4 linked regions of the Homo sapiens genome follow. The protein of the gene in region 4 interacts with the protein of the main gene of each other region in a biochemical or structural test. Each region holds a gene or a part of one and is shown on either strand. Other genes may lie near its edges. The genes, in order: MAP3K3, GRAP2, PLCG1 and GAB1.

What was found.
Region 1: the proteins of GAB1 (region 4) and MAP3K3 form a complex in vitro, tested with the Homo sapiens proteins (one study listed by BioGRID).
Region 2: the proteins of GAB1 (region 4) and GRAP2 form a complex in vitro, tested with the Homo sapiens proteins (2 studies listed by BioGRID and IntAct, with this or other methods).
Region 3: the proteins of GAB1 (region 4) and PLCG1 form a complex in vitro, tested with the Homo sapiens proteins (2 studies listed by BioGRID and IntAct, with this or other methods).

The regions. Positions count from the first base shown.
Region 1 is NC_000017.11:63,617,918-63,625,417, forward strand, and holds the start of MAP3K3 (mitogen-activated protein kinase kinase kinase 3), read left to right. Parts: upstream 1-4,499; 5' UTR 4,500-4,842; coding exon 4,843-4,846; intron 4,847-7,500. UniProt on the Homo sapiens protein: Component of a protein kinase signal transduction cascade. Mediates activation of the NF-kappa-B, AP1 and DDIT3 transcriptional regulators.
Region 2 is NC_000022.11:39,896,158-39,904,084, reverse strand, and holds the start of GRAP2 (GRB2-related adapter protein 2), read right to left. Parts: upstream 3,002-7,927; 5' UTR 2,847-3,001; coding exon of another isoform or gene 2,755-2,846; intron 1-2,754. UniProt on the Homo sapiens protein: Interacts with SLP-76 to regulate NF-AT activation. Binds to tyrosine-phosphorylated shc.
Region 3 is NC_000020.11:41,175,541-41,178,159, reverse strand, and holds the end of PLCG1 (1-phosphatidylinositol 4,5-bisphosphate phosphodiesterase gamma-1), read right to left. Parts: 3' UTR 534-2,619; downstream 1-533. UniProt on the Homo sapiens protein: Mediates the production of the second messenger molecules diacylglycerol (DAG) and inositol 1,4,5-trisphosphate (IP3). Plays an important role in the regulation of intracellular signaling cascades.
Region 4 is NC_000004.12:143,339,852-143,346,886, reverse strand, and holds part of GAB1 (GRB2-associated-binding protein 1), read right to left. Parts: intron 3,428-7,035; exon of another isoform or gene 3,352-3,427; intron 1,832-3,351; exon of another isoform or gene 1,752-1,831; intron 1-1,751. UniProt on the Homo sapiens protein: Adapter protein that plays a role in intracellular signaling cascades triggered by activated receptor-type kinases. Plays a role in FGFR1 signaling. Probably involved in signaling by the epidermal growth factor receptor (EGFR) and the insulin receptor (INSR).

The sequences.
Region 1 (7,500 bases), on a different chromosome or scaffold from region 4:
TGGAGACTTGTTCAAGACTGGCTGTGGGGGAAAGAAATGGAGAGAAAGAGCTATCTGATCATTCGAAGGTATCCAACTTGGGAAACTGGAGAGGGACAGAGAAAATACAGAACTATGGGGGAAAATGGTTTCAGTTTGGACCCAAAATTGGAGGTTCCTGTGGGACACCCATGTCTGTGGAGTTCAGAAGAAAGACATCCCTGAGCTAGAGACACAGTTGAGATTCTGGAATCCTCAGCGCATATGGTAACTGCAGTATGGGAATGTTTGAGATGGCTGGTTGAGACACCGACAGTGCAAATGAAGCCACAAAGAAGGCAGTTGTAAGAAAGGTAGAAGGTAAATCAGAAGGTTGTTTTCAGCTAAAGACTCAGGTAGATGTACTGCGGTTCTCCATGTGTGAGGCACTATTCTAAGTGCTGGTGATAGAGCAGTAAGCAGGACAAAATTCCTGCTCCTGCATACCTTATGTTTGTGGTAGTTGGAGTAGAGCAAACAAATAAATATATAATTTTAGCCACTGAGAAAAAAAAACAAGGAAAAAATATACAAATACAGAATGATGGAAGGGAGGGGTCATTTTGGATGGGGTGATAAGAAATGACTTAAAAGCAGACGTTTGAGCAGAGACTTGAATAAACTGCAGAAATGAGAACATCTTGGCTTGGTAGTTTCAAAGAATGGAAAGAAGGCCAGAGTAGCTAGAGGACAGTGATGGAGGGACAGGATGGAGGGGCCAGCTCCTATTGGGCTTGGCAGGTCATGACAAAGAATTGGGGTTTTATTCTGAGTGTGATGGGAGGGAAGCCATTGGAGGGCTGACAGTGGGCAGGGGGTAGGGTGGCGTGATCTGAATTACATTTTACAGGGATCACTCTGGTTGCTATTGGGGAATCATTTGTTGGGCTGCCACAGAGGAAACAATGGAGGCCAGATAGGAGTCTGGGGCAGTCATTCAGGAGAGTAGGTGGTGGCTTGGATAAGGGGGGTGGGATGAGAAGTGGTTGGATTCAGGTGTGTGTGTGTGTGTGTGTGTGTGTGTGTGTGTGTGTGTATTTTTATTGTATTTTTTTTGGAGACAGGGTTTCACTCTATTGCTCAGGCTGGAGTGCAGTGGCACAATCTCGGCTCACTGCAACCTCCGCCTTCTAGGTTCAAGCGATTCTCCTGCCTCAGCCTCCAAGTAGCTAGGATTACAGGCCACCACACCTGGCTAATTTTTATATTTTTAATAGAGATGGGGTTTCACCATATTGGCCAAGCTGGTTTCGAACTCCTGACCTCAGGTGATCCACCTGCCCTGGCCTCCCAAAGCGCTGGGATTACAGGTGTGAGCCACTGCGTCCGACCTGATTCAGATACATTTTGAAGTGGGAGCTGAAAAGATTTGCTGCATGTTTGGATATATGGGTGTCAGGGAGAGAGAATAATCAAGGAACACTCCTAGGTTTGTACAGAGGGTCTCTGACTTACTATGGTTCGGCTTATACCTTTTTTTTTTTTTTTTTTTTTTGAGATGGAGTTTTGCTTTTGTTGCCCAGGCTGGAGTGCAATGGCATGATCTTGGCTCACTGCAACCTCTGTCTCCCGGATTCAAGCAATTGTCCTGCCTCAGCCTCCCAAGTAGCTGGGATTACAGGTGTGCGCTACCACGCCCAGCTAATTTTTTATTTTTAGTAGAGATAGGGTTTTACCATGTTGGTCAGGCTGGTCTCGAACTCCTGACCTCAAGTGATCCACCCGCCTCAGCCTCCCAAAGTGCTGGGATTACAGGTGTGAGCCACTGTGCCCCGGCCTCAGCTTATGATTTTTGGCGTTATGATGGTTCAAAAGCAACACACAATTCAGTAGAAACTGTGCTTTGAGTACAACCATTCTGTTTTTCATTTTCAGTACAGTATTTGGTAAATTACATGAGCTATTCAAAACTTTCTTATAAAATAGGCTTTGTGTTAGATAATTTTGTCCAACTGTAGGCTAACTTAAGTGTTCGAGCACGCTTAAGATAGGCTTGGCTAAGCTATGATGTTCAGTAGGTCAGGTGTATTAAATGCATTTTCTACTTAACGATTGTTCATCTGATGGTTTATCTGGACATGGCCCCATGGTAAGTCGAGCAGCATCTGTGCTTTAGCAATTGGGAAAACAGAAAGGAGCATGGCAGCTCACACCTGTAATTCCAGCAATTTGGGAAGTTGAGGTGGGAGGATTGCTTGAGCCCAGGAGTTTGAGACCAGTTTGGGCAAAATGGTGGGACACCCCCAACTCTACAGAAAATTTTTTTTACAAAGGCTCTACTCTACCTGACAAAATCTTATTCCTTAGTATTTAATTTCTCTTCTTAGGGAGAATTTAAATTTAATTAAGTAATTTAAATTAAAATTTTTTCCTGGCAGGGGTGGATAATGAAAAAAAGGTTGAGAAACACTGGCCTAGTGCAAGAACATGGCCTTTGGGAGTCACACAGGCTTGGTATGAATCCTGGCTCCACTACTTGGACACAGTGCTTAACCTCTCTAAGCTTCACTTTCATCATTTAAATGCCCACAGTATTAGCATAATAACCTTAGAGTTATTGGAAAAATTAAATGCAATGACGTGCCTGTTATATTGATAAATACTAATTTTCTTTCCCCTTTATCCCCGCTTTCAAGAATAGAGATTATTATAGTTAAGGAACTCCAGTAAACTGGGTAGAGACCAAATCAAGTGGGAATATGGCAGGCTTAAGCTTGTTGGAAGAAAAAGAAAACAGGACAAGGGGGCTGATTAAATATACGGAGATGAGTGTAAAGAAATAAGGGAGGCTGCTTGCAGTGGCTCACGCCTGTAATCCCAGCACTTTGGGAGGCCGAGGCTGGCGGATCACCTGAGGTCTGGAGTTCGAGACCAGCCTGGACAACATGGCGAAACCCCGTCTCTACTAAAAATTCAAAAATTAGCCGGGCGTGGTGGCGCACGCCTGTTAATCCCAGCTACTTGAGAGGCTGAAGCAGGAGAATTGCTTGAACACGGGAGACGGAGGTTGCAGTGAGCCGAGATCGCGCCACTGCACTCCAGCCTGGACGACAGTGTGAGACTCCATCTCGAAAAATAAAAAAGAAAAAGAAAAGAAATAGGGGAGAGCCCAAGGTAATTCTTAAGGGATTTGACACTCAAGGCAAAGCCACCACTAAATGTTCTTAGTGGACAGTGGACAATGACATCTGAGGAAGATTATTCTGGAGCCTGACATATTACACTGGAACAGAGGCCGGAGAAAGGAGCCCACATTAATTGTGGTGGACTTGGAATCTGAAGATCTGAGTGTATAAAATGTTGAACAATGAAAAGGTTGGGGAAATTAATTATGGTGCCTTTAATTTTGAAACATCATGCAATCAGTACAATTGTTTTGGAAGGATATTTGGTGGCACGGGAAAACAGAATAAAATGTAAGCATACTACAAAACAATACAAAGCCATTTTTGTCAAACGCCTATCTAGGTAGGAAATAGATTATCTCTGGGGTGGGATCTTTTCTTTTTCATAGTTTTCTGCATTTTTCAATTTTCCTACAAAAAGCTCGTGTTGCTTTTATAAGAAAAAAGTTATTTTCTGAAAGAACCTCTGGCGGAACTCAGATTTCCAGGGACCCACATGCCAGCACTATCCCAGCCTCGGGTGTCTGAGGTACCTAGACCAGAGGGTGTGGCCCTGGAGGTGTGAGACAGGGAAAGCTGGGCTGGGCCGGCCGCCCCTGCCCGGGGCAAGAGCAGCGTCGGGACCGGAGGACCAGTCGGGGGATGGGGCCGCAGAGGTGGCCGCGCGCCGGGAAGTGCTCAGGCCAGACCCTCCCCACTCGTTACACGCCCTGTGCTGGGCACGGGGAGGAGCAGGACGCCACCCTCTGGAACCACCCAGATCGCTGGGGCCTCCGAGAACCCGGAGGGCGGAAGGCCTGAGGGCCCCCTGCAGCCGCCTACTCCTCACCCCAGCCCTAAAGTAGCCGGCGGGGAACTGCGCCAGCCCGCGCGCCCGCCGAGCCTTCGGTGACTGACGGGAGGTGGGAATGTGGGCGGAGCCTCACGCCGGAGCTGTGATTGGAACAACCAACACCTCCCAATCTCTCCCAAGAGAGGGAGACAGCACCAGAGAGGGATGCGCAGAGGCGGGGGCTTAGAGGCCTCTACGTGATTGGCTAACAGCGCAGGGAGCCGGGCGCTGTCCCGATGATTGGCAGGCGCTAGACAGCCCTCGGAAACCGCCTTGGCTTCGCCCATTGGCATCCTGTGAGAGTAGGCGGGATTGGTTCATCGTGTGGTGCTGATGATTAGCTGGCCGCTGAGAGTTAGGGTGTTGGGAGAGAGTTGGAGGGGGACGGCGGGGGCTGCCGACTTCCTTCTTGTTATTGGCTGGTGAGGTGGGTGGGGGTGGTGCGACGGCCCAGCGGCTGCCTGGGATTGGTGGGGGCCGGCGTGAGTGACAGACAGGGGGGCGAGCTGCGCGACCAGCGGTTTGTTTTTCGGAGCGTTCCTGAGGTGGAGAACGGTGGCCGGACGGAGAGACTGCGGGTCTGAGGGACTGGCGGGCGGGCGGGCCGAGCGGCGCCGCCGAGGCCGGGCTGGGCCGAGCCCAGGAGCGCCCGGGATGTAGCGGGCCACCCTGCCGATGCCACAGCGCCCGGCCGCGGGCGGAGCCGGAGCCGGAGCCTGGGGAGGCGGCGGGGGCCCAGAGCGCAGCCCGCGCCCCCCGCGCGGAGCCAGGCCCGCTGCCGTCCCCGCCGCCCGGGCCCCCGGCATGCAGCCCCGGCTGCGGAGGTGACACTCACGGACCTTAGCCACCGCCGCCGCCATCGCCACCATGGGTAAGTGTCGCCACCGCCCCGGCCTGTGCCCGCGCTGCTTCGCGACGCCCCGCCCCAGGCTGAGGGAGGAGGACCCTGGGCCACCGCCTGACAGGCATGGACAGCCCGCCCGGCCCGGGGCTGCGGACCGCCGGCCGGCCGGCCGCCCGCCCCGCTCGCGCGCCGCGGCCCGGGCGGGGGTTCTGGCTCCGCGGGGCGGCCCGGCCGGCAGAGCCCGCTCGGCAGCCCTCCTTCTGGGCGGCGCGGCGGGCGCATCCCGGGGAAGCGGCGGCGGGACCGAGGGCCCGTGCTCCGCGGGGCAGCCTGGTCCGAACGAGCCGGACCGCGAGCCCGAGGGCGGGGGAGCAAGAGCGCAGTGTGGGGCCCGGGCTGGAGGCTGCCGCAGGCCCAGCTGCTGTTGTGTCTTTTCCTTGATTTGCTTTTTTTTCCTGCCTGTGTCATTTCCTTCCCTTTGCTCACACAGGCCGGCCTGTGAGAGTTCCCGGGGCTTGCTCTCCAGCCCTGTGCGCGCCCCAGCGCAGGGGGGAGGGCGTGCGGGGCTCGGCTAGGAGGCGATTAAACTGGAGCTGTGATCAAGCGCGCGGTTGACAAATGCGTGCTGCACGCAGATTGCTGGGGGTCAGGAGTTGGTCGGATGCTGCCAGTTAGAATTCACATCCTACTTTTTGAAAAATCCCGTTGCAGGGGTTTAATCCATTATTTTTTTCTTGCGGTATCCCTGAAATTATGTAACTTTTGAAAGAAACATTTGCTACACAAAAGAATTTCTCTGAAATCACTTCCTTTTTGTCAGTATTTACAATTTCTACTGTGAAGATGTAATCTAAGGAAAGCTTTTAATGTCTTCCGCACGTAGCATTTGAGTTGAATTATATTCCATATCCTTTTTGGTAGTTTAGCAAATGACTACTGGACTAGACTAAGAAATAACATTTTAAACGTTCTTTACTTCTCCTGCCCAGACAGGTGTTGTGATACTGTTGTCACAAGTTTTGCAAAATATTTGGTATTGCCCTAAATAATAATAAAAGGGTAAACTTCAGTGAGAGGATCGTTTGCAAAACGTTCCGTTGCTTCTGTGAAGTGCCCCATGTGAAGAGGGAGCCTTAATGTTTGCCTTGCCCTATAGCAAGGTCAAGTCCTTTTTGTAGGAGGTTAACTGTACGCTATGTCAAATTCGCCAGATATTGTTTTGTGACCCATCTCTACACCCTGGCTTTGAATGAATTGCCTTGTTCTAGTTCATGCTGTCCCTCATACAGTATGAGAAGGGTTTGTTCATTTGCTGGGCTTACTGTTTCCTTCTCATGCTTTCCTTCAGAAGTGCGTGCTCTTCTGAGGGAAGGTCTGCTGTGAGAGTGGACATAAAAGGAACCCAGTAAGGCCTGGTATTTAAATATATAATTGAAGAAATGTTTATTGAATTTTTTTATAGATGAGACACAGAATTCTTGTCTACCCCAGGATTCAAACATTTATCTTGTATTATAGATTTTGAATAAATCTTCGAATTGATTTATGAGCCTGTATTGTGATAGTCTTTCTTACAAGTCTTTTTTCTTGTCCTGTGGGGGCAGCTGTTAGTCCCAAAGGAGAGTGTGAAATACTTAAGGGTATGTAGACCATCCACTTCCTACTTTGTTGACTGCTACACCAGTTAGAGTGCCCACATGTGTTGACTACATCTCATTATCTAACATGAAAATAGATATGAACCTGTTTTCACATTTCAAGACATTTTCAAAAAGTTTATAAGTGTGTGAGTATATGGAGACCAATGATGGGGAGGAAGGAAACTATATAGGCTGGGTCTAGAGCCCCAAAGAAAAAAGGGCCAGGACCTCAGGATCTTCTCATTTGTCCCCACATCAGTTGTCCTCCTGTCAGTTTTACGTGAAGACACATGTAAAAGGAACATGCAAGAGGAATTAACTTCCCTGGTGGCTGCAGTATATTAGGCAAGCTAGTTTAAGAACCACTGCCCTAGCTTTCTTCACTTTCCCCCATACAATTCTCTCCATCTTTTTTGTGAGGGGAAAGTAGATGACCTTGATACACTGTTAGAGCTAATATTGAATTCTTCTTGACACCTGGCTGTTCAATTTGCTTTGTATAGAGCTCATTGAGGATATGTATACACAGATACATTCACACACAGTCTCTCTCTTAAATACTAGTTTCCATTTTGGTGATGAAAATTTGAATTTCCAGTTTAGTTAGTTTGCTTTTAGTTGCTGTAGTTCTAAATAAACTCAAAGGATTGATAAGAGAGAAACATAGACTTCTTAGTATTTTAGTTATACTTGTTAAACTCCAGCCTCATGAAGAAAGGACTAAAACTTGAGTCTCTGCCCTGCAGGTTCTTTGGTTAAGTAACAGTCACATTTTCCTGAGCTGTTCTAAGCCCAAGACTGAAGCCTGTTTGACAACTTGGGTTAATAAAAACATGTCAGATTTTATATTGTCTGTTAGCCCCAATGAATTTCTAGTGGAAATTATTTATCTCTGTAAATAATAGGAAATTTTTTTTTTTGCTTTGATACTATGTGGCTATAAAAAATTGGGATTGACTGGTTGTTTTTTCTTGGTCACTCCAGAATTCATTTCCAGATTTAGTAATCATAGTGGCAAATGCTGTTCATAATACCTGAGAT
Region 2 (7,927 bases), on a different chromosome or scaffold from region 4:
ATGTCTTAACATTTTCTTTGGAGAGTATATAAGACTTTTATCATCATGCACTTCGTGATAGTTTCTTTTAATTCTCTAAAATTTTTGTTTATAAATACATATTTAAAAAGAAAACAATCTTTAAAAATTATTTACTGAATTCCTACTGACTCAAGTTTATTGAAACTTAATGTTAACACTGTTGAAGAGGACTTGGTGCCTAGTGCCAGGCCTGGCATATAGTAATTGATCGATAAATGTTTGTAAAATGCTTATTTGTTAAACAGGACCATGCTTTCTTAAGAATTTTTAAGAGAAAAGAAAGGGCAGGCCAGGTGTAGTGGTTCACACCTGTAATCCCAACACTTTGGGAGGCTGAGGCAGGCGAATCGCTTGAGTTCAGGAGTTCAAGACCAGCCTGGGAAACATGGCAAAACCCTGTCTCTACTAAAAATACAATATTAGCCAGGTGTGGTGGTGTGTACCTGTAGTCTCAGCTACTTGAGAGGCTGAGGTGGGAGGATCACTAAACCCAGGGTAGTTGAGGCTGCAGTGAGCTGTGATTGTGCCACTGTACTCCAGCCTGAGTGACAGAGTGAGACCCTGTCTCAAAAAAAAAAAAAAAAAAAAGACTCATGAGGCTGTGTTATTATCATTATTATTATTTATTTTTGGAGATCTGCCCACCTCGGCCTCCCAAAGTGCTAGGATTATAAGCATGAGCCACCGCGCCCAGCCAAGGCTGTGCTATTTCTTTACAGACCAAGGTATGCTGGGCAAATACCTCAAATGGACAAAATGGGGACCTAGCGACCCTATTGTTTGATTCAAACAACTTATAAAGATTCTTTAACAAGTTTTGAGTTTGTTTGATAGGGGCACAAAAATGAATCATCTGCCCCCAGGATTATCCAGCAGCAACTGTTACTTATTTAAGAAATCGTGATGGAATCACACTTACTGACACATTTTCGAACAATTGCAGACTTTTCTTGACCCAGGAAAAAAGGGCAAGTTCTACTCAAGCTTAGGCATGAACCCTGTCAGTCATCAACACCAGTGGGTGTTATTATCTGGGAATCAATAAATATGTTGGAACTAGGATCATTTTCAGCTCTTCTAGGAAGCAATAGTTCTAAAAGAGATGGCTTCAGGAAATAAGTGAGAGACATTTTGTATAAGAAGTGGGAAGAAAATGATCAAGAGTCAAAGAAACAACTAATCATGATATCGCCTTGCATTTTTATAGAGCCTTTTTCCTAAGGCACTTCATATCTATGTTAACTCATTTATTCTTACAACATCCCTACGAGGTAGACAGAACAATTGAAAGGGATTTTCACCAGGGCCTAAGATGTGGGAGATATTCAAAAGGATATTGTATTAGCAACAGAGATATTTCTTCATATTGAATAGATTGATCATCTCCTTCTCCTCTGCTTCAGTAAAGTCATTTTTAAAAAGATAAAATCTATTACAATTTGGGGAGAATAAGATTTCAGTTTACCACATGGGAGACACTCCAAGTTCAATCTAAAAAAGCAGTTTTATTCAATAATATAGGGCCACCTCTCTTTTACAAAAAAACAAAAAAGGGTATGAGTCAGATTTTTTTCGTATTTGAAAATTAAATATACTTAGGTGGTCCTCTATTTACACAGTGTTCCTTATTTAATAGCAGATGGTTTTGTAAAGAGAATCACTATAAAATTATTCTATAAAGTTTTACATAAAATACTGGATTGTTAAAGGAGAGTAACTTCTGCTAAATACTCTTTCCGAAACCAAAAATAAGAAACAAAAAGGAGCCACTAAAGAACTAAACCGTTTATGACAAACATTGCTGCATAGAACAAAAGATTCTGCGACCTGAAGTTTCCCATCCTCAGATAACATAACGAGAACACACGAAATTTTTCCCATTGGATGTTTAGATCTAAAACACTTCCCACTCCTAGTTTATCTAGGGATGTGTATGTTCAATAGTGTGCAAATTATGCTGCATACACTTTATTAAGAAGGCCTAATTCCAGGTAGATAAATACGGTAAATTTTTTTTGACAGTATACCTGTCAGGGCAATACAGTACATTTTAAATTAGTGAAACCTTTGGTTGGTATGTTCAATCCTCACGTTCAGGAAGAGTTGGGACAAAGAACACAAAGCAGCTATCTTCAGACTGGACGCCTAAACCAGAGACAGTCATAGGGATGGAGCCTAACGGCTAGTACGAAGAGAGACAATACCCTTCCAAAATACACTTCAACATAAAGTTTTCTTTTCGTAAAGGAATGAAAACTGGTGTCCTTTGTACAGGTAACAAAAATGCGAACAGAACTAGAAATTCAAGCAAAGAGAGAAATCCTGACCTCAGAGTGCTAGTGTTCATTCATCACTGCTCAGCCCTCTACCACCCCCTCCAATCCCTTCCAATTTGGATTAAATTCTGACCATGGTGAAGTGGAATTTTACCTCCATGATCCCAAGGTCGAAAATCTTTCCCTGAGATGCTTCTGAAGCCAGTTTGTGGAGATTTTTGTGTTATGGACTGGGTAAGGAACAAGTGTTCTCCCAGTTCATTTGATAGAAGTCAAATCCCATCACCACAAACATTGTCACAGCAAAAGGTTTAGAGACCTTAGCTGATGGGACTTAAAAGCAATATTTAGAGAACTAGTGAGATTCATTTTAATTAACTCATACAGAACATTCTGCAAATTATAAAACTGTTCAAAGTTTCTAGAGTATATGTACAGATGTTGTATAATGACATACCTTTTGGAAGAGAAGGGGTTGAGTTTATGTCTTGGCTTTGACACCGAGTTATTAGAATCCTTTCTGGCAAGAAGGGAGACAAATTCAAGCATCAGAGTTACTGCATTTCAGAGTATGGATCCACTTTGTGCTGTCTTCCATGTACCACTCTGAAAGAGGGTGCAAGTTTACAGATCCATTAACTGTGCCTCCTCCTCCCCACCTCTTACTCCCTCCTCCAAACTAACCCTAGTCAGCCCTGCAGTCTGTAGGCAAACCACACAGGAACTAGCACATATGGGGCTTCGGAGAGTTGGGCGTGAGCCTTAGATTATGTGGTTTTGTTTTCTTGCTGCCAGAGTTGAACTAAAATGCAGGAGGTTCACTGAAACACTTTTGCTTCTTTATGCTTGGTTTCAGTTTTAACAATATCCCCCCTGAACACTTGTGTTCACATAAGAAAATTTATAGTTCTTGATATGGTCCATCAGCAAGCTGATCTTAAGGAAAACTCTTATTCTCTTAGTATAATCATGCATCCAGAGGAACATTAGGGCTTCTTGGGGGAACTTATTTAAGAGCACCCTCGATCACTCACAATGTTAAAATCCCAGGAAAGATGCTTTGTTCATACACTCAGCCTCTAATATTACTCTTGACAAAAAAAGAAGAAACATTCTGAGCTGGGATGCATTCTCACCCCAGGTTTGCCACAGTCCAGCATGAGGTGGAACCAGTTCCTTCAATTTCTGGGACTTCAATTTCTGTTGAGTCTTAGACTGAAGGCTTTCTGGGATTTAAGACTTTCCATTGACCTTGAGTTTTGTTACCTTCAACTTCCTTAGTTCTTACCTTTAAATGTACCACTCACCCTTCCCCCTATATCAACTGCAACTTGTGAAGGCCTCTTCCTTTCTCTTTGCTCTTGCTAGAAAATGGATTGCCAACGTTGCATCTTTTACAGAAAATTAGAGACATTGCTACTTGCTAAGTGGCACCATTCAGAGTTTGGGGACTGGATCCAAGATGAGGAGGGAAATGTTGGCTCACTGGGATGTTCCTAGCATTAATCCCTGGAATACCAAGAGGAGAGTGTCAAGGAGAGATTCAATTTGGGGTTCTAAAATTTAAACTTTTTCTGCAATGTGAAACGGCATCCTTTTCCATCTCTTTGCTTCTTTATATCTAAACCTTGCTTAAAATTTACTTTCTTAAAACCTTTTCCTTGGTTATAATTGCCCAACATTTTTATTGAAATAGAAAAGAAGAATCAGCAAAGTGTCAAGGTGACAGAAAATGCTCAGTAAATATTTGTCGAATGAGTTAAAGGAAGTAATTTTCTATCCATAACTCCTTTTTTTTTTTGAGACGGAGTTTCACTCTTCTTGCCCAGGCTGGAGTGCAATGGCATGATCTTGGCTCACTGCAACCTCCGTCTCCCGAGTACAAGTGATTCTCTTGCTTCAGCCTCCCAAGTAGCTGGGATTACAGGTACCTGCCACCATGCCTGGCTAATTTTTTTTGTATTTTTAGTAGAGATGGGGTTTCACCATGTCGGCCAGGCTGGTCTTGAACTCCTGAACTCAGATGATCCGCCCGCCTCAACCTCCCAAAGTGCTGGGATTACAGGCATGAGCCACCGCACCCGGCCCTGTAGCTCCTTAATAACAGGCTTTCTTTTTATTAATGCAACTTTGTCAAATTTTCTTAAATCCTGGTTATATCTGAAAAGGATCTCTGCTATTTCCACATTATAAAGATAAAATTTAAAAATAACAACATCTTGCTACTTTAAAAATAATAACGTCTCAACCTTGACCTCAGAATTATTCAGCCTTCTAAGGACCTTCTTGGATCATTACACTGAACAGCTCTATTGCCAAGTTTTTAAATGCTGAAATCCTCTGGCTACAGTCCTTATTCTTTGATAGCTCCCAAGTCGATGGTTTTGAAATGGTTAAAGGAGTCCCTAAAATTCTATGGTTGGGGAGTGGGAGCGAAGGGAAAATGTTGAATGGTGTTACATGGAAAGTATCATGGTGTTTTCAGCTTGTACCCTAATGAGGAAGCTAATTTTGCACCAGGCACTACTCCCCAGGGAGCAGAATATAATCCTTCCCCTTACAAGCATGGGACAGATTGCAGAACAGAAAAATCTCAAAGGCAAGTTATTTTGGTAGTAAGTACTGATTGACAGACATGTTATGTAGAGCATAGTGGGAGGGAAGCAAGGCCACTTGAGTGGTTTATTTCATAACAGCTCTGTAACTGAACGAGTGCAAAGGCAGATCCTAAGAATAAAGACCCTAATGTGAGAATGCCAGCATTTCAGTACTCACTATCATGAGATACTCAGAAAAATAGCAGCAAGATGAGGAGGATACAGTAACATGTGAAATATGGACTTAGCCACAGTGGAGAAGTTTCTTTTTTAAACCATACTTTGTTTAAAATTTTTTTAATCAATTCCTTTTGAGGGGTCATTTGTTTATATCTGAACTTCTGTTTTGTTTTGTTTTTTGTTTTATTTTGTTTTTTGGAGACTGAGTCTCGCTCGGTTGCCCAGGCTAGAGTACAGTGACGCAATCTTGGCTCACTGCAACCTCCACCTCCTAAGTTCAAATGATTCTCCTGCCTCAGCCTCCCGAGTAGCTGGGATTGCAGGCACCTGCCACCACACCCAGCTAATTTGTATATTTTTAGGACAGCTGAGGTTTCGCCATGTTGGTCAGGCTGGTCTCGAACTCCTGACCTCAGGTGATCTGCCCACCTTGGCCCCCCAAAGTGCTGGGATTACAGGCATGAGCCACTGCGCCTGGCCAATATCTGAACTTCTTGCCATAATTATGCTCAATTTAACTTTATGGTAAAATATGTACTTCTTATTTAATAGTGTGCATTCAGACATTCTCGTTTCATTTATTCAATAAATAAAGTTTGAACACCTACTCTGTGTTAGTCCTGTTCTAGGTGCTGGAAAACTATCAGTGAACAAAACATAATCTCTGCCCTCCTGGATCTTACATTCTGGTAAAGGGAGAAACAGAAGGTACATCAGATGGTCCTACTGTTAGGGAGAAAAATAAAATGATGCAAGAGCCACAGGGAGTGTGGCTGAGATGGGGGTTGCGATTTTACGTTGGGAAATCAAAGGACATTTGAGCAAAGTCTAGAACAAAGTGAAGAAGCCAGTACTTCCTGGATGGACATCTGGGGAAATAGCTTTTGCAGGTATAGGGACTAGCAAGTGCAAAGACTTCAGGTGGAGACATGTTTAACACTGTGAGTGAGGTGGAGAGGAGTTGGGATGGAGATCAGAGAGAGAGCAGAACATGTAGGGCCTTGTTGCCATGGCGAGGCCTTTGGATTTTACTCTGAGTGAGATGGAAGCCAATGGAAGATTTTGAACTGGGGAGTAGTATGATCTGACTTGGGTTTTAAGTTTTAAAAGGGTAGCTCTGGCTGTTGTGCTGAAATTAGATAGCAAGGGAGCAAGAACAGAAGAAGAGAGACCAGTTAGGAGCCTACTGTTGGCCAGGCATGGTTGGCTCATGCCTGTAATCCCAGCACTTTGGGAGACTGAGGCGGATGGATCACCTGAGGTCGGGAGTTTGAGACCATCCTGATCAACATGGAGAAACCCAATTTCTACTAAAAATACAAAATTAGCCAGGCATGGTGGCGCATGCCTGTAATCCCAGCTACTAGGGAGGCTGAGGCAGAAGAATCGCTTGAACCCGGGAGGCGGAGGTTGCAGTGAGCCGAGATTGCGCCATTGCACTCCAGCCTGGGCAATAAGAGCAAAACTCCATCTCAAAAAAAAAAAAAAAAAAAAAGAGGCTACTTTCATAGTCCAGACCAGAGATGGTTGTGGCTTAAAACAGGATGATGTGAGTGGTGGGAAGTGGTTGGATTTTGAATATACAGGGTGATCATAAAGTCTAGAAACATAGATAATGTTATTGTATCTTGTATTAGAATGTAGCATCAATAAATCATTTATTATCTAGACTGGGTAGCCACCTTGTATTTCAAAGGTAAGCTCATGGATATCATGAGAGCTATAAGAGACAAACACAGGAGTTAAGGTGACTCCCAGGTTCATGGCCTGAGAACCTAGAAGCAAGGATGTGTCATTTACTGAGACAGGAGAGACCGTGGGAGAGAAGGTTTGGAAGGCAAGACCAGGAGTAGAGGTCAAGGTAGTTAGATACACGAGTTTGGAGGTCAGGAGAAGCTGAAGAGAAAACCTTGAGAGTTGTCAGAATCGAAGAGTATTTACCGCTTTGCAAGTGGATAACACTACCTGTGGAGTGAATATAGATAGAGAAGACAAGAGGTTAGAGAATGGGCTCCTTCAAAGTTGAGAGGTCATAGAATTGAGAACGGATGAGTCAAGGAGATGAGAAGGAGAAATGGTGTCCGGGAAGTCAGGTGAAGCAAACTGTGTTCACTTTTATAGAACCTCAAGTTCAAAAAATTAAAGGAGAAAACCAACCAAGCTACCATAGAGCAATATTTGTATTTAGTGGATGTTACGGTATTGCAACTAAATTGTGCCCCCAAATGGAGGAAAGCAGATAAGAAGGACCCCTTACATATTGTCACTTGAACAGGGTTAATTCCACTAAGCTGGTAACACTTGACACTTTTGCCAAGCCTAACCAACTCCCTCACTGTTTATTGGGACTTCAGTCTTTAATCTTACCCTGTCTCCTACTTCCCATCTGCCTCCTCAATCACCTTCTATATGCTGACTACTCTGAAGTCTATGAACCTAGCCCCAAACCCTCTTCTTTCAGTTATCTCTATTCAACTGTCCCCTGAACATCTCCCACCTGTTGCTCAGATTCAAAATGTCCGAAGCAGAATTCCCCAGCTTTCCTGCCAAACTGACCCCTCGGATCATGTTCATCTTGGTGAACAGCAACAGTCATTTACTTGGTCACCCCAAAAAGAAACTTAGTCCCTGTAGACTCCTCCTTCTCTCTCATTGCCACATATATTCAGAGCCCGATCCCATAACTGCTACACTTTAACATTACATGTAAAAGTATATGTGTGAGGAGAGTGAACAGAGTGGAGATTCACACTATGCCCATGACCTCTGCCTTAGTTATGGCCTTCATCACTTATTGCCTGAACTATCAGAACATTCTGTTCTTCTTCCAGTTCCTCTGCTTCCAATCTACTC
Region 3 (2,619 bases), on a different chromosome or scaffold from region 4:
GAGTGCTGAAAAGCATAGCCTGTCATTTGCTGGGGCGGTGTCGGGGGTTAGGGAATATGCATAAGGACCCAGGGGCTTTCTGGAGGAAAAAGACTAAAGCCCCAGCTTCTAAGACCCAAAGCATTTGAATTTTGTTGGGGTGGCCCTGAAGGCCTGGGACAGAAGGAAAAAGGGTCCTTTGAAATGAAATCACCTACAGTGGAGCCAGGCAGTGATTCTGGACACCAGAATAGGAGTCCAGCTTATGTCATGGGGAAGCAGCTGTGTGTGTTGAATCCCAAAAACCAGGTCCTTGGAAACTAGACCAAACTGGCATGCAACTGGCAAAGCCAATCAGCTGAATGCTGTAGTGGGTAGACTCAGGCAGTGACTCACTTGGGATACTATGGGTGGAATTCGCAGGAGCGGCCAGCCAGGGGGGTTGCTGTGGGGTTCCTCCAGGCAGGGAACAGAATGCCTAGATTAACCCCTAAGCACAAGTCCCCTGGGAATTACTAAAGTACCCAGAGAAGACAGGAGTTGCAGTCTGAGACTGTGCTTGATCCATTTAATTAAAATGTGAAGAAGGCATGATCCTTTCATTCACCGAGTTAGTCTGGTGGGATAACCTGAACCTATTTGCTTTCTACCCACCCTCAACAGAACTCACATGGTGAGTGATGGGCTCAAGTTGAAAGACAAGTGAGTGTCTAGGTCCTTAGTGATGTTCAAGCTCTCAGGTGATGTTCAAGATGTGCTTGGTCAGGAGGCAGACCCCTGCCTTTTCTGCTCATGGCCACAGATACTCAACTGAGGTCAGAAACTGCTCCTGCCATCTTCCCGCAGGGCAGTCTTTAGTCCTGTGGCGGGGGCAGAATGCCCCTGACCTTGTAGGCTCTACTTTGTATGTGTACATGTCTGCTGAGCCAAAGCTGTTGAAAGTGAAAGGTCTGTCACTTTGAACCCAGTCTACTTGTCCCTGGTCTGTCAGCCAGAAGGTTCTACTGGTGATGGCAGGAGAACAAGGAGCCTGCAAGGGAGCCCATCTACCTTCTGGTACCACTGACTTCCCTCTCCCGGCCCTGCCTGCTCTTTTGGTTTGTGCTGCCAAAATCAGGGTTTTTCAACCCTTGTTACTCATTTAAATCACCTTGAGAGGTTTTGAACAATACCTATGCTAAGGCCCCGGGTACCAGTATTTTTCAGAAGCTCCCCAAGTGGTGCTAATGTGCTGTTAGGGTTGAGACTCCACAGGTCATAACCCTGAGCTGTCGCACTGTAGGGACACGGCCTGCATGCATGGGATGGGGCAAACAACTCCTGATGCCAAAGCATTCGGCCCCAAGTAAGGGTCTTCCCCACCAACAAACACTCTGCCTTCTGGGTCAATCAACATTTGTCAGGTCTGGAGGAATCTTGAAGTGAAAATGATCTTTAAATTTGCTTGAGAGTTGGCACGTTTTCCACTAGGAAGAACAATCAAAACATTTGCAGTGAGGCAAAGGCAATGTCTTACAGAGCCCAAGAGAGGTGAGCCTCAGGTCTACAAAGCTGCCTTAAGAAAGGCAGAGCTGTCTGTTCCCCAGGTTGTGTTCCAGAAAGACACTTGTTCAGCAAATAGAGATACGTATTGATGAAAACTAAAAGGGTCAACACTAACAAACACGCCAAGGACGTCCTAACCAACGTGGATGGGCCCTAACAGAAGGGCCTACACAGTCCTCTTCCTTCTCTGATAGGAAACCTTTCTCTCCAGGCCATAAAAACCTAGAGAGGAAACATGGATCATGAGGGCCCAGGTGAATTCCCACCCACCACCTTCTTGTGTATGGGAAAAAGCCACCCTCCTCTCTATGAACTGGGACTGTGAAGCTGTAAAAGAAAGTCACACAAGAACCTGAGCACTATCGCTGTTTGATACTGGCTATCATCAGTTCATGTCATCCACGGAACCGGATCTATCTTAAATTTTTTGTGTGGCGTCATTTTTGTTCCATCCCAGCACAGCCAACTATGGAAACAGAGCTTCAGGAAGAGAAGGGCCTTTCAACTGTGTTGAAAGGGCCCAGAGATTTCAGCTGCCAAGTCCTAGAGGCAATCAGAATGGCACCTGGCAGTGTTAACGAACTGAATGCAACATTTTTGAAAGGAGAGGTTTCTGTGGAACTGGAAAGGGGCTCTGGTTGTTTCCAGCTCACCACCAAAACTGGCTGGCCACAAAGAACCCAGGCAGGATGTACTCTGCTCAGACACACCCTCAGAGGGTGGGCAGGAGAGAGTGGACCCACAACTCCTGTTAGCCCAGAGGAGGGGTTACAGCTCTTGCTGCTTAACCTGAGAAATTTCCAGAAATTTCCTACCTGCTTCTACTGCAGAATAATCATCTGGCGACTGTTTCTAGTGAGCATGTCCCATGCAACAGGCTTTCCTGAGCCCCCGAAAGAGCATACAAGTCAAAGGAAAAAGGACATGAGGATGATTTATTTGGCAGTCAGATCTTAAGAGGGCAGCAGAACTAGCAAATGGCCAACCCTGAGCCCAAATGTGGGCAGTAGGTTTGTGTGTGCTGAATGCTGGCTATGCTATGAGGCACCTTTGCGCCCACGGGCCTGGACCCCGGCCTCTGTCCTCAGAGGTGAG
Region 4 (7,035 bases):
GGTAAATGACCTACATACCCAGCAAAGATTACTCAGAAGGCTTTGGTTTTATGTAACAGCATCACTAGGAACAAAGTACCTTCCCAAATATTTTACATTATTAGGAGTTCAATATTTCCTTTTACCTTTTCTCAACACTTCAAACATTTAAACCTGAAACTGTCAAGAACATGTAAAGTAAATAATCCTACATAACTTTGGGGTCAATTATAACTTTGCCAGAGGGTAGAGGGTTCAAAAAATACCTCCCTAGCTGAATGAGGTAATCGTTCCTCATCAAGCTCTACACAACAGCACTGGAATTCAAAACGCTGAAGGTAGCTTTTACCTAGTATCTCTCTTACAAAAGTCAAAGATTAAAGCACTTCTCTCTCGATAATCAAGGAGTCATCCCTCCACCAGCACCTTAGTCTTGGCAACTCCAACTCTGGCCACAGCAGTGATGGGAATGTGCTAAGGACTGGAACTGGGAAGGCACACAGGCAGGTAATTCTTTCATCAGGTAGTCATCTCAGGGAGGAGTTCTGCCAGTCAGAAAGTGGCCTAACCACATTTCCCAATACAGCAGTAACTAAAAGCTGCATTTCAGGAGAGAAAAACATCTACATGCTAGTTGGAACATTATTATTTCTATTCTTGATTACTAAGTAAGAGTGACACAAATTAACACTCTCTTTTTAGAGAAAAGTTTCGTGAAAGAATGTGTGTGTAAAGATTGGGACACAAATATTTTGTGATTTTTGATGTCTAGGCTTATATCACAGAGAAGCAGAAATGAATAGGAAAAGAGAGAGTAGGGAACTATGGCACAGAGTGCTTTTACCTTCCTCTCATTTAAAAAGTTAGCAAATAAAATGTTACAACAACTGGCTGGCTAATGAGTTAAATACAACAATAAAAACTACAACGAGGCAAGAGATCACTTGGGGCCAGGAGTTCAAGACCAGCCTGGGGAATGTAGAGACCCTGTCTCTATTTTCTATTTAAAACAAAAACTACAACAAAATGAGTTGAGTTCTTCCAATGCTTATGTCCAGGATTTCGTTTCACAAAAGCAAATGTGAAACTTGCTTAACTTAAATTACATTTACCTGCTTATTTCATGTTTAAATAGCTAAATATCTCTAGGCAATAATGATAAATAACCAAGCAATGTAAAAGTAAGTTAGAAGACCTTGGTATTATTTGACATTTTGCCCCTCTTCTGACAGGAGGATGGCCTCCTCTCACTTTTCTCTTGAAATGTAAAATGGAAGTTTGATGCTTTCCCCTACGTGCAGTATTCTTAAAGAAGTATGTATAAAGCTGTTTTCAAAATAAATTTAAACTACATGAGTCAAACCAAAAGAAAATAAATAAAAAAGGGAAAGGAAAAACAACAGGATAGTTAAAGCAAAGTTTAATATTTGTCTTCCTAAAAAAAGAAAGGCTTAATATTTTTACATTGAAATGTTTGGACTCTTGGTATGTTGTTTTTAATTCATGAGACAATGTGGCCATTTGTTTTTTCCTCTTAGGACATTGTTTTTTGAACACATAACTTAAGAGAACTACCTAGGCCAAGTATGAATTCAAAGTAAAAAGCTGGGAGAAAAGAAAACCACCATCAGAAAAGCACTTGGTAAATTTGGCATTCTTTCTAATATATAAAAATAAAAGAAAACTCAGTTTAGAAAGATGATAAACATTATTGAAACACACACTAAGAGGTGAGGAAAGAATGATTAAATGGTAGAAAAAAGTTAACTCACATTTCTCCTTCTAGAAGCTCTATTCCTTTATAACTTATATCCTTCACGTGCAGTTTGCATATAGTAGCTCTGCTAAAAACAACCACATGGAAAATTTTTGTTCCAGATAATACTGCAGGACAGGGCTTGGCAGCTACAAGTTGTAATCAGAATGCTTCAAGAGCTAATGTAACAGAGATAACAACCAAACATGCATTACAGTGCATAGTCTTAATTCTTTTTAAAAACGGGCTGGGAGAAGGTCAAAAGCTCTTAGGTTATAGTGTACTTTATTCAGTAATGCGACCTTTTAAACTAGGGAGAACTTCGCTCCTATGAATAAGTGAATTGCTTAAAAGAGAAATGATTCTTTTTTCCAGTTAGGGCATTCTTCTATTATTTAAGATGCTCAAACATAGAAGCCTAGAATGAGCAAAAAATTCCAGTTCCTAAAAATGACTTTTCTCAGCAATTCTACAGGCCTAAATTGTCATCTACAATTTATTGAGGCTCCTATAGCCATCCCACTGGCAACGGAAGAGCCTAGTTATTTAATAAATATGGAAATCCACAGTACAATGGGCCACTTTTTGCCAGGGGTAATATAAAAAAGAAAGAATGCTAATTTTATGTGTGTTATACCCCAAGAGGGGAGAATAAAGAGAACTGTGACTTGATAAGTTTTCTGTATTAGTTGGCAGACTGAGATAAAAGGAGTCACAGAAAGATCGTGACTTCAATCCAAGTTCAAATGGCAAATTCAGATGGAGCTCTAACTTGGTGGAAATTAGGCGCCATGTTGATGCGAGGAATGTGAAATGAGAGAAACCCCTCCATCCACAGGGAGAGGGGGTTTCATGTGATCCGTTGGTGTTATTCTCTCCCCCCCAACACGAGCTGGCACTCACACAGCTGGGCTAAGATGGCTTCCAAAGTCCGAAATAAGACGCTAGCCCAAGGCAGCCCTGGTCCTGCTGCTGGAACTCAGAAGCAAATGAATCAAAGGCTCTTTTATTCTCCCTCCCACCAGAACATGCTCCCTCTCTGTTGTAAACTAACTGCTTGCCAGAATGAATTACTTAGCTTAAAACAGACATAAAGAAATCTTAAACAACTCATGTCCCTTGGAATTTTAATAAGTTCAGGTGACCAAACAAGTTGTTTTGTTCATTTCTAGTTTGATGCAGAAAATTCACTTGTGCTCAGGAACCCATGAGGAACATTAGATCTTAGCAGAAACAAAAACTTCTCAAACTAGAAGATACAGCTGACAGCCAAACTCCTCACATGAAACTGGGGTGCTGGGAAGCAGTTTTTTTCATGAGGACATCTAAACTCAACACAAATCTTTGTTCTTCCTTTAAAACCAGCCCTCCCTTAAGATTTTGCTGTTGCTGCCAGCAGTACACCAGCTCTTCTAAAAGCAAAGTGTAAAATTCATTTGCGGAGTCTTCCCTGGCATCTCGTACCCCTGCATCCCCTGTTCTCACTCTAAACTTTCATTTGGCAACTAATCATATATCATAGCTCCTATAAAATGACTGACAGCTTGTCTTCACAAACAGATTAGAAACTCCTTAAGGGCAGAGAGTGGGCCTTTCCTTCCTTGCATTCCACACATGGCACATAACAAAAGCTCCTGCGATACCTGTTTATTATTCAGTCAACAGGCATCTGTTGAGCTCCTACTCTGAGCCAGGCATTGCACAGGGGCTCAAGACACAGCACCCAGCCCAGGAGCACAGCAGCCAAAGGCCCTGCATGCAGGTCTGCCTTCAGTTAAAAACCAAGAGTCCCCAAAGAATACTGCTTAAGCAGTCACTAAACTATTTAAGATAAATAGTAAAGATTTCCCCACAAGGAAGATTTATGTCCCCCAAAAATTTATGTTGCAGCTTATTGAAGAGCTCCCCATTTGTCCCTTCCACCCAAGAAAATGTCTGAGAAGAGGAACGCTAAACTGCAACAGGGCTTCTGCTGAAGATCTACAGCTCCTCCCTCCCCCATTTTACAGGTAAGGAAACTGAGGATCAGAATGGTCAAATGCTCCTGTGGGTGGGTAATGGCAAAACCAAGTAGAATCCGGGTCCTGACACTCAGTCTGAGTTTCCTTCCACTATAGCAAAACATCCCCACTAAAAGCATCAGTGGGTGCATCAAATTACATTTTAATACAAAATTCTTCAAAAGTAAAGTAGTAGCCCATCTACTACAATGCTCCTTCTGGCTGTCAGTCTCTGTAAGAAAATTAGGACTGCTGAGTACCTAACACATGTTTTGAATCTATCACCTCTGGCTGGGCACGGTGGCTCACACCTGTAATCCCAGCACTTTGGGAGGCTGAGGCGGGCGGATCACCTGAGGTCAGGAGTTCGAGACCAGCCTGGCCAACATGGCAAAACCCCATCTCTACTAAAAATACAAAAAAAAAATTTGCCGGGCGTGGTGGCAGGAGCCTGTAATCCCAGCTACTTGGGAGGTTGAGGCAGGAGAATCAGTTAAATCCGGGAGATGGAGGTTGCAGTGAGCCATGAGCCAAGATCATGCCATTGTACTCCAGCCTGGACAAGAGCGAAACTCCATCTCAAAAAAAAAAAAAAAAAAAAAAAAAAAGAATCTATCACCTCTGAAACTTTCTCAGTCTGCAAATTGTCAATAGCTTATCTACATATTTTTATGTTAAGTCTAAAATATGGGATTTTACTTACTCTCAAAAAACGCTGTGTGTTTTACTCCTTACATTTTTAAGCAGGTTATGGCAAAATACACTGAAATAACCAGTCACTTGTCAAACAGATTATCCAACTATAACTCTTGCCACTTTTTGTTCCAAGATGATCTCTTAAAAAAATAATTTTAAAGAGCCAGCAGAATTCTCAAACTACCCCCTCCAAACTAATGCACCTTCCTAACAGTAATTCTGAATCTCAAAAGGTAGCAATCAGATTTGGAGATTCAGCAAGTTGCACGTGGAGAGTTCTACACTTATCATTCAGCCCAGGCACAACAAATGAACTATCATTAACCATCATAAAGGCTTAATGTAATTGCAAGTTGATGATCTCTGTTAACAGAAAAAACATTCTTGCTACACTTGAAAAGGTAAAAACATTGGGAGTCTGAATTATGTTTACTAACATGAGGATGGCAAGAAAAAATTTCCTTCAATAGAATAATTATGCTTATTCAGTCACTGTAAGCAGAAACATCAGAATCCATTGATTGCTAGTGGTAATTGTCAAAAAAGGATAGGAAGAGCTTCTAGACATGACAGTCCTCTTTGTTGTAGTGACACTATTGAGCAGGGGTTTCATGCTTAGCACAGGTCCTGGGTTGTCCTTGAACCAAGGAGATGCTGACACTTGGCCTGCCCACGCCCCTCTCCTCCATGTCAGATGTCAGGTGCCCACCCAGTAGGAGAGGCTATTTCTGTTTCTAGGCCCATTTCCAGAACCAGGGGTGTGTTTTTGAAGTCCAGACAAGAGTTGTCCTGTTAATTGACAGCTGCAGAGCAGACAGAGAGCCCACGCTGGGTACAGATTACCTACCTAAGAACTGGCTGGGGCCTTGCTACCAGGCTGGCTGTCAGCTAACAGGCCACCTTGCTCTGGCCTCAGAAGCAGGTTCTCCTGCTGAGATTGTGCACCTGCCCAATGCTGACAGCTGGGCTATGGAGGAGCCCAAACTTAGTGTTTGGGCTTCAGGCAAGGAAGCTCCTCCTCCAGAGCGATGGTGGTAGCCAGCTGTCTTGAAACAATACTTTATTTACAGACTTGCATCTTATTTCAGCTAAAATTTCAGGTTCTGATGAAAATTTCACCATCATTTCTTTAAATAATTCTTTAAAAATCTGAGCACCATTGTTGAGTGCATACTACCAAGACTTTACTTGTTTTCTGTAATCCTAGTGACAGTAATCTGTTTATGATTCCATCAGGTCCTTAACAAAGTAAAAAAGCAGCTGTTTAATATATAACACAGCATGAAAACAGCAACACCACAGTAGCAACCCTGAAAAGAAGCATTAAAATTTTCACCTACATTTTAAGTAGATTTTAAAAACTTCCAGGAGAATGAAACACATACAAGAAAGAACCTTTTGCGAATATAGAAAAAATTAAAAAGAGAAGGAAAAGCTGGGGAATCTGCTGACTACTCTTGACTTTCATTTTTTTGTGTGTCATTCTTTAGAAAATTCAAGAAAAGCTTACACATCAGACTAACACACTAGCGTGTACAAAAAACAATCCTGCTTGAGTTGACTATGAAACAGTAAACATAAAACGGAGCTGTAAATGGAATACATTGGGGGCCATATATGAGATGGCTTTAAAGCTAAAACTAAAACAATTTAAGGCCAGGCGTGGTGGCTCATGCCTGTAATCCCAGGACTTTGGGAGGCTGAGGTGGGTGGATCACCTGAGGTCAGGAGTTTGAGACCAGCCTGGCGAAATCCCATCTCTACTGAAAATACAAAAATTAGCTGGGTGTGGAGGGGGATGCCTATAATCCCAGCTACTGGGGAGGCTGAGGCAGAAGAACTGCTTGTATCTGGGAGGCAGAGGTTGCAGTGAGCCGAGATAGTGCCACTGCACTCCAGTCTGGGTGACAGAGCAAGACTCCATCTCAAAAAAAAATTAATTAAAAAAAACTAAAACAATTTTTTTGTCACTTAAAAGCCCTTATGGATCATCTTAATCAGTGTTCGGACTACCCTATAAATGCTGTAAACAGTGAGACAACTGTCAAAGTCCCATGGGCCAAATATTTCCAAACAGAATCATGATGCTCAAACTCCCTGAAGTCTCATTTAATAATTATAGTATCAAGCATCCAAGATATCTTTTCATAGCAAATCCATTCATTACAAATCATTATCCACAAACATTTTGCCTACTGGGTGGCCAACAATGTTTCCTTTATCCAGAAAAATAAACATTCTACATAAAAAAAACAAGCATAGGAAATGCACGTATACATGTCTATATCTTTGATGGTCAAAGCTACTTTAGCAAAAACCATCTAAACTGGACAGCAAAGCCAAAAGATCAATAATCTGGGAATGTCAAAATCTTCTGGGCCACCAACCTGACAGGTAAAATACAAGCCTTATTTAACCTGACAGTTAAATAAGCCTTATTTAACTCATTACACTCCATGCTGGTTTCCTCTATTCTGACAGCCGCCCTGTCTACTGTCTTCCAGGACTATCTCCATCTACTTTATTCGTGGGTAAAGAAAACACCAGTGCTACACCAGGCAAAGAAAATCCTAGTTTCTCCCAAGCTATTAGGCACATTCATCC